2 linked regions of the Homo sapiens genome follow. The protein of the gene in region 1 purifies or fractionates together with the protein of each later gene. This does not show direct contact. Each region holds a gene or a part of one and is shown on either strand. Other genes may lie near its edges.

Evidence for each region.
Region 2: the proteins of ZNF563 (region 1) and SHCBP1 purify together in Homo sapiens (affinity purification with mass spectrometry; 2 studies listed by BioGRID and IntAct, with this or other methods). This does not show direct contact.

Annotation. Positions count from the first base shown.
Region 1 is NC_000019.10:12,316,874-12,320,527, reverse strand, and holds the end of ZNF563 (zinc finger protein 563), read left to right. Parts: intron 1-694; coding exon 695-1,934; 3' UTR 1,935-3,051; downstream 3,052-3,654. UniProt on the Homo sapiens protein: May be involved in transcriptional regulation.
Region 2 is NC_000016.10:46,600,772-46,604,596, forward strand, and holds part of SHCBP1 (SHC SH2 domain-binding protein 1), read right to left. Parts: intron 3,691-3,825; coding exon 3,457-3,690; intron 3,373-3,456; coding exon 3,204-3,372; intron 2,889-3,203; coding exon 2,768-2,888; intron 1-2,767. UniProt on the Homo sapiens protein: May play a role in signaling pathways governing cellular proliferation, cell growth and differentiation. May be a component of a novel signaling pathway downstream of Shc. Acts as a positive regulator of FGF signaling in neural progenitor cells.

The sequences.
Region 1 (3,654 bases):
CTCCGTCTCAAAAAAAAAATTAGCCAAGTGTGTTGGTGCACACCTATGGTTCCAGCTACTCATGAGGCTGAAGTAGGTAGATCACTTGAGTTCAGGAGGTCAAGGTTGCATGAACCATCGTTCTGCTACTGCACTCCAGCCTGGTGACAAAGCAAGATACTGTTTCAAAAAATAAATTAATTAATTAAAAAGAAAAGGAAAAAAAAAAAACCCAGCTGGTGTTGGGTTGTCTTGCATAGCATTCAGTTCATTCATGTTCAAACAGGGCATGAAGCCTACACTTTGCATGGTAATGATAAAAAGGTATATCTGGCCAGGCGCAGTGACTCACTTCTGTAATCCCAGCACTTTGGGAGGCCAAGGGGGGGTGGATCACGAGGTCAGAAGTTCGAGAACAGCCTGGCCAGCATGGCAAAACCCTGTCTCTACTAGAAATACAAAATTAGCTGGGCGTGGTGGCGTATGCCTCTCTAATCCCGGCTACTTGGGAGGCTGAGGCAGGAGAATCGCTTGAACCCGGGAGGAAGAGATTGCAGTGAGCCGAGATCGTGCCGCTGCACTCTAGCCTGGGTGACAGAGCAAGACTCCATCTCAGGGAAAAAAAAAAAAAAGTACATCCAATACCTATTAATACACATAAATAAATAATCATTTAGAAACAACTATTTAGTAACGTACTACTCATTTTTTACAGATGTCATATGGTAGAGAGATTCAGTGAAAGTAAAGACAGTAGTCAGTGTGGAGAAACATTTAGCCTCATTCGAGATAGTATTGTGAACAACAGCATTTGTCCTGGAGAAGATCCATGTCAAAGCGCTGAGTGTGAAGAAGTCATAATGGGTCATTTATCCCTTAATAGCCACATCAGAGTTGATTCTGGACACAAACCACATGAGTATCAGGAATATGGAGAGAAGCCACATACACATAAACAACGTGGGAAAGCCTTCAGTTACCATCACTCCTTTCAGTCGCGTGGAAGGCCTCACACTGGAAAGAAACGCTATGAGTGTAAGGAATGTGGAAAAACCTTCAGTTCTCGTAGAAACCTTCGAAGACACATGGTAGTGCAAGGTGGAAATAGACCTTATAAATGTAAGTTGTGTGGGAAAGCTTTTTTTTGGCCCAGTTTATTACGTATGCATGAAAGAACTCACACTGGAGAGAAACCGTATGAATGTAAGCAGTGTTCTAAAGCCTTTCCTTTTTACAGTTCCTATCGAAGACATGAGAGAATGCACACTGGGGAGAAACCGTATGAATGTAAGCAGTGTTCTAAAGCCTTGCCTGATTCCAGTTCCTATATAAGACATGAAAGAACTCACACTGGAGAGAAACCATATACATGTAAACAGTGTGGGAAAGCCTTCAGTGTTTCCAGTTCCCTTCGAAGACATGAAACCACTCACAGTGCAGAGAAACCCTATGAGTGTAAGCAATGCGGGAAAACATTTCATCATCTTGGAAGCTTTCAGATACACATGAAAAGGCACACTGGAGATCGACCTCATAAATGTAAGATATGTGGGAAAGGCTTTGATCGTCCCAGTTTAGTTCGATATCATGAACGAATTCACACTGGAGAGAAACCCTATGAATGCAAGCAGTGTGGGAAAACGTTATCTCATAGCTCAAGCTTTCGAAGACACATGATAATGCACACTGGAGGTGGACCTCATAAATGCAAGATATGTGGGAAAGCTTTTGTTTATCCTAGTGTATGTCAAAGACACGAAAAGTCTCACAGTGGAGAGAAACCCTATGAATGCAAGCAGTGTGGGAAAGCGTTATCTCATAGCTCAAGCTTTCGAAGACATATGGTAATGCATACGGGAGATGGGCCGAATAAATGCAAGGTATGTGGGAAAGCCTTTGTTTATCCCAGTGTATGTCAAAGACATGAAAAGACTCACTGGAGAGAAACAATATGAATGTAAACTATTATAAAGCCTTCTATATTTCCAGTTCCCTTTGATATCATGAATAAACTTACACTGGACAGAAACCCTATAAATGTAAATGTGGGAAAGCCTTTCATAATTTTTATTCCTTTCAAAATCATGAAATATCTCACACTGGAGAGATGCTGTATGATATAAGGAATGTGGGAAAGTGATCGATTTTTTTTTAACACCATTGTCAACATAAAACAACTCACAGAGCAGAAAAACTCTGTGAGTGTAAAATATGTAGGGAAGCCTTCAGTCATTTTGGTAACTTAAAAGTACATGAGGCTGGGCACAGTGGCTCACGCCTGTAATCCCAGCACTTAGGGTGGGCAAATTGCTTGACCTCAGGAATTTGAGGCCTGCCTGGGCAAAATGGTGAAACCATGTCTCTACAAAAAATAGAAAAAGTAGCAGGTGTGGTGGTATGCCCCTGTAGTCCCAGCTACTTGGGAGGCTGAGGTGGGAAGATCTCTTGAGCCCAAGGGGTGGGGGTTGCAGTGAGCCAAGATGCACTGCACCCCAGCCTGGGCGACAGAGCCAGACCCTGTCTCAAAAAAAAAAAAAAAGTACATGAAAGGATTCACTCTGGAGAGAAGTCATATGAATGTAAGAAATGTAGAAAAGCATTGAGTTCTCTCAGGTCCTTGCATAGACATAAAAGGACTCACTGGAGAGATACTCTATAAATGTGTGAAATGTAGGGAAGTATTCTTTAATGTTATTTCATTTCAGATAGAAATAATTCTCATTGGAGATAAACCCTATGAATGTAAACACATAGTAAAGCCTTAATTTTAAGCCTCAGTTTCTTTCAAATACAGTTATCCCCTAATATTTGCAGGAGCGTGGTTCTACCACCCCCTGGGCATACATAAATCGACACATGCCAAGTCCTTTTTTAAAAATGACATATTTGGTACAAAATTACCCGGATGTGATGGCACATGCCTGTAATCCCAGCTACTCAGGAGGCTGAGGCAGGATAATCACTTGAATCCGGGAGGCGGAGGTTGCGGTGAGCCAAGATCGCGCCACTGCACTCCAGCCTGGGCAGCAAGAGCAAAACAACCTCTGTCACACACACAAAAAAAAAAAAAAAGGAAAGAAAGAAAAGACATATTTGGGTTAGACACAGTTGCTCACCTCTGTAATCCTAGCACCTTAGGAGCCCAAGACAGGTGGATCACTTGAGCCCAGGAGTTAGAGGCCAGCCTGGGTAATGTGGCAAAACCCTGTCTCTACAGAAGATACACAAATTAGCCAGGTGTGGTGACATGTACCTGTAGTCCCAGCTACTAGGGAAGCTGAGGTGGGAGGATCGCTTGAGCCTGGGAGGTTGAGGTTGCGGTGAGTCAAAATCACATCACTGCATTCTAGCATGGGCAACAGAATGAGACCCTGTCTCAAAAAAATAATAACAATAAAAAATATTTGCATGTAACCTACCCACATCCTCCTGTATACTCTAAATCATCTGTAGATTAGTTAAAATACATCATGCATCATAGAAGCTATGTAAATAGTTGTTATTATATTGTTTAGTGAATCATGATATGAGAAAGACCCTACACATATTCAGTACAGACCCACCCACATAATACATGTCACCTAGAGCATTATAAATCTTTTCTTTCAACACTCATAGATTGCTTTTGTTTAATGACCTGAAAATGTGTTAACATTCACCCAACAAAAGTGTAAT
Region 2 (3,825 bases), on another chromosome or scaffold:
GGAGGCTGAGGCAGGTGGATCACTTGAGGTCAGGAGTTCAAGAGCAGCCTGGCCAACATACAGAAATCCTGCCTCTACTAAAAATATAAAAATTAGCCGAGTGTGGCATGTGCCTGTAATCCCAGCTTCTCAGGAGGCCGAGGTGGGAGAATTGCTTGAACCTGGGAGGCGGAGATTGCAGTGAGAGGAGATCGTGCCACTGCACTCCAGCCTGGGTGACAGTGACTCTGTCTCAAAAAAAAAGCATCAGATCTCAGTGAGGTGCAGTGGCTCACGCCTATAATCCTAGCACTTTGGGAGGCCAGGGCAGGTGGATCACTTGAGGTCAGGAGTTCGAGACCAGCCTGGCCAACATGGAGAAACCCTGTCTCTACTAAAACTACAAAAATTAGCCAGGCATGGTGGCAGGCACCAGTAATCCCAGCAACTCAGGAGGCTGAGCCAGGAGAATCGCTTGAACCCAGGAGACAGAGGCTGCAGTGAACTGAGATCACACCACTGCACTCCAGCCTGGGCGACAGAGCAAGACTCCACCTCAAAAAAACAAAAACAAAAAAACCATCAGATCTGTATAAATCTTACTCAAACCATTAATGCAAGCCAAACACCTGAGTGGGCTTACAAAAAACTAGAGTATCAGAAAACTAAAGAATTCGCTTGACTTCCATTATAAAACAGAACCACATAGACAAAGCTGTAAGAAATAACTCTCATTGACTAAAGACGAATCTTTGAGTAAATGAAAGCAGTAACTGTTTTTAACAAGCAAAGCCGCTCAATGTATCTACACTGGAAGAGGACAAACAAGGCTTTGGGGGCCCTAGAGAATGCAAGGGGACTCCACACACTGGAATGCTACCAGGGGTGGACTCTGGATGCCTGAATTATGAGTGATTTTGTTTCTGATTGTTGTATGTATCTGACTGTACTTGGCATATTTTCTACAATAACCATTGCTTTTTATCATCAGAAAAATTAAAAGTACAAAAAGAATTGCATATTGAGAAAAGATTTTTACACAAATTTTTATATAATTATGTATTTCTTTCCACTTAAAACATAAAACCATTACCTAAATGAATGGATTTTCAAAACAAGAAAGAAAAACCCTATTGTAAGTACTATTGACACCCTGCACATAGTAGGTACTCAATATATATCTCTTGTTATATTGGTTAGCTATAGATCACTATCAGATGAGCTTGAATCTTACTCATGAACACTCCATATATGCACACTAGAGATACCTTGTGATTCCCCAATTCTCAGACCCATACTGTTAGTCAATATACAGCCATTTTTATACTTAACTATCAGCATTCTATATGTCCATTTATGACACTCTGGCAATTACATTAAAATTTCCTCACCAATCTAGGAAGAACTCTTATCTACCATACAAACTATAATATCAGTGTTATTTCCACTATGCCAAAAAATAAAGTGTTTTTATCACAGTGATTTATCTTGCAGATGTGTTATTTATATACACACATCTATTATACATCAAAAATTGGAGAGTAGAAAAGAACAAAAATTACACACATAAAATAAAAAAGGGGGTGAGATGATGTACTAGGAACAGGAGAAAACTAAACTTCCAGCTTCAGTTCCATTTAGAAGTACTGACAAGATAAAGAGCATAGCTTAAGCAGTTTCTGAACAGCTGCACAAGTCCCAAAATGATATATGATTTTTTGCATTACAAGCTTCACTGCTAACTTGAAGCTATTTTGATAAATAGTTGAACAGGTGTAACTAAATTTGACATGTTATGAAAATATACAGGACCAAGATGAACAATTGTAAAGTAACCTAAATTTAGAAATCACTCTAAATGAACAATAAGATTATAACTGTGAAAAAGTTATTTTTTTTAGACAGAGTCTTGCTCTGTCACCCAGGCTGAAGCATAGTAGTATGATCTTGGCTCATTGCAACCTCCACCTCCCAGGTTCAAGCGATTGTTCTGCCTCAGCCTCCCAAGTAGCTGGGATTACAGGCGTGCAACAACATGCCCGGCTAATTTTTGTATTTTTAGTACCGACGGGGTTTCACCATGTTAGCCAGACTGGTCTCAAACTCCTGGCCTCAAGTGATCTGCCCACCTCGGCCTCCCAAAGTGCTGGGATTACAGGCGTAAGCCACCACACCCAGCCCAAAAAGTTATTTTTAATAGAATCTTTCAACATTAATCTTTTCTAAAGTATACTTTGGTCAAGACACAAAGTGTAGCATTTGTGACATTCGGCAAGCATTTAGAGAATTAAGATAATTGGTACCAATTTCAAGTTAAATGCCCTTCATTATACCTCTCACGAAAATAAGCTAAGTGTGAAACAAAAAACAAAAAGCCATGCACTAACATATCTGCAACATCTATGAGATAAGAGCAAGCAACAAATTTTTAAAATACTAAAATTTTTAAAAATATTGCTAGGAATTTTTTTTTAATTCTAGAAATTAGATTTCCTTTCCATAAACCACCTACAATCTGGAAAGTATGCTTCTTCCTAATGGTCTTTTTTCTATATGAGCCTGTGAACATCTCCCCAACATACACACTGCTACAAAGAACCACAACTCAAATTGCTGAAACACTGGGTCAACCTCTTTTCAGCTTTCCATGTCCTTAATGTTTCAAGGCAGCTCACTAGAAATCAAATGGGTTCAAATCACATTCTTGGAGTTTCAACAAGATTGGTGATTTATTGTTTACTTAAACATATCACGTGTGAGAGTTTGGTTGTGTGTCTTCCATACTCACCTTCCAACTCAATGGAGTCAGCAATGGAGAAAGTGCCATGTACCACATAATGGCCAGGACAAACAATAACAGTGTCACCTTCGAAGCAGGCATTTATAGCAGACAATGGATCACTATGGAACTAGAAAACAATAAGAACACATTTGTAAATATACACTCCCAAAAAAGTAATTTGAGTATTACTCTAGGTGACTTCATGTCTTACTTTGAAAATGGAAGCCAAAAACTGCATATTGAAGCATCTCCTTTGATAGCGCACTGACCTAACACATGCCTGGTAAGTGACTACTGCTGATGAAAGGCAGGGCTCTCACTACTTCCCATGCACAGAAAACCGTCTTGGGAAAGCTCCTGTAAATACTTTGTGGGATTTGTGAAAACCTGTGGTGAATCAGAAGGAAAAAAAGCCACCTGGAGTGAGAAACTCTCCGTTTACCTGAATTTCTCTTTCTTCCTCACCAGGCTCCTGGCAAAGCCTGTCCGTAAGCAGGGACCGCAGGAGACCAGCCATCATGGTGGAGGAGACCACATGAGTGATCTTCTGACCGCTGGAACGGACACCCTTTGCTTGGATGTTAGAATTCTTCTGATAACCAAACACATACCTTAAAGAAACGAAACAGGCCTATCAGTAAGACAGCAAGTAAGAAAAGATGCTGACTAACTAAGAATTACAAAGACACACATACCTCAACAAAGGATTCTCAATGAGTTTCAGCTTTTGTTTCAACTGTTCCATCTCCGAATACAATTTTAACCCTTCCACCATGGAGATATTTTCCTGCTCGGAATCAGAGTTACAATTTGACAAACTGCTTCTCAGATTTAAAAATTTCCTGTAACTCTCCTCACATTGAGACAACAGATTGTGGTAGTCAACAATAAGTCCTGATGGAACTCGGTCTTCAAGAATGTCATAATGCCTGAAAGTTTAAAAGCAAAGTGAAATCCACTGCCTTTCAGGCACATTTTCCTATCATTAAAACAGCCCACTTAGCCCTCAAAGACCCAGTAAGAGTTTTACAGTATATAACTCAGGTGCATGTTAAGTCTTTCTG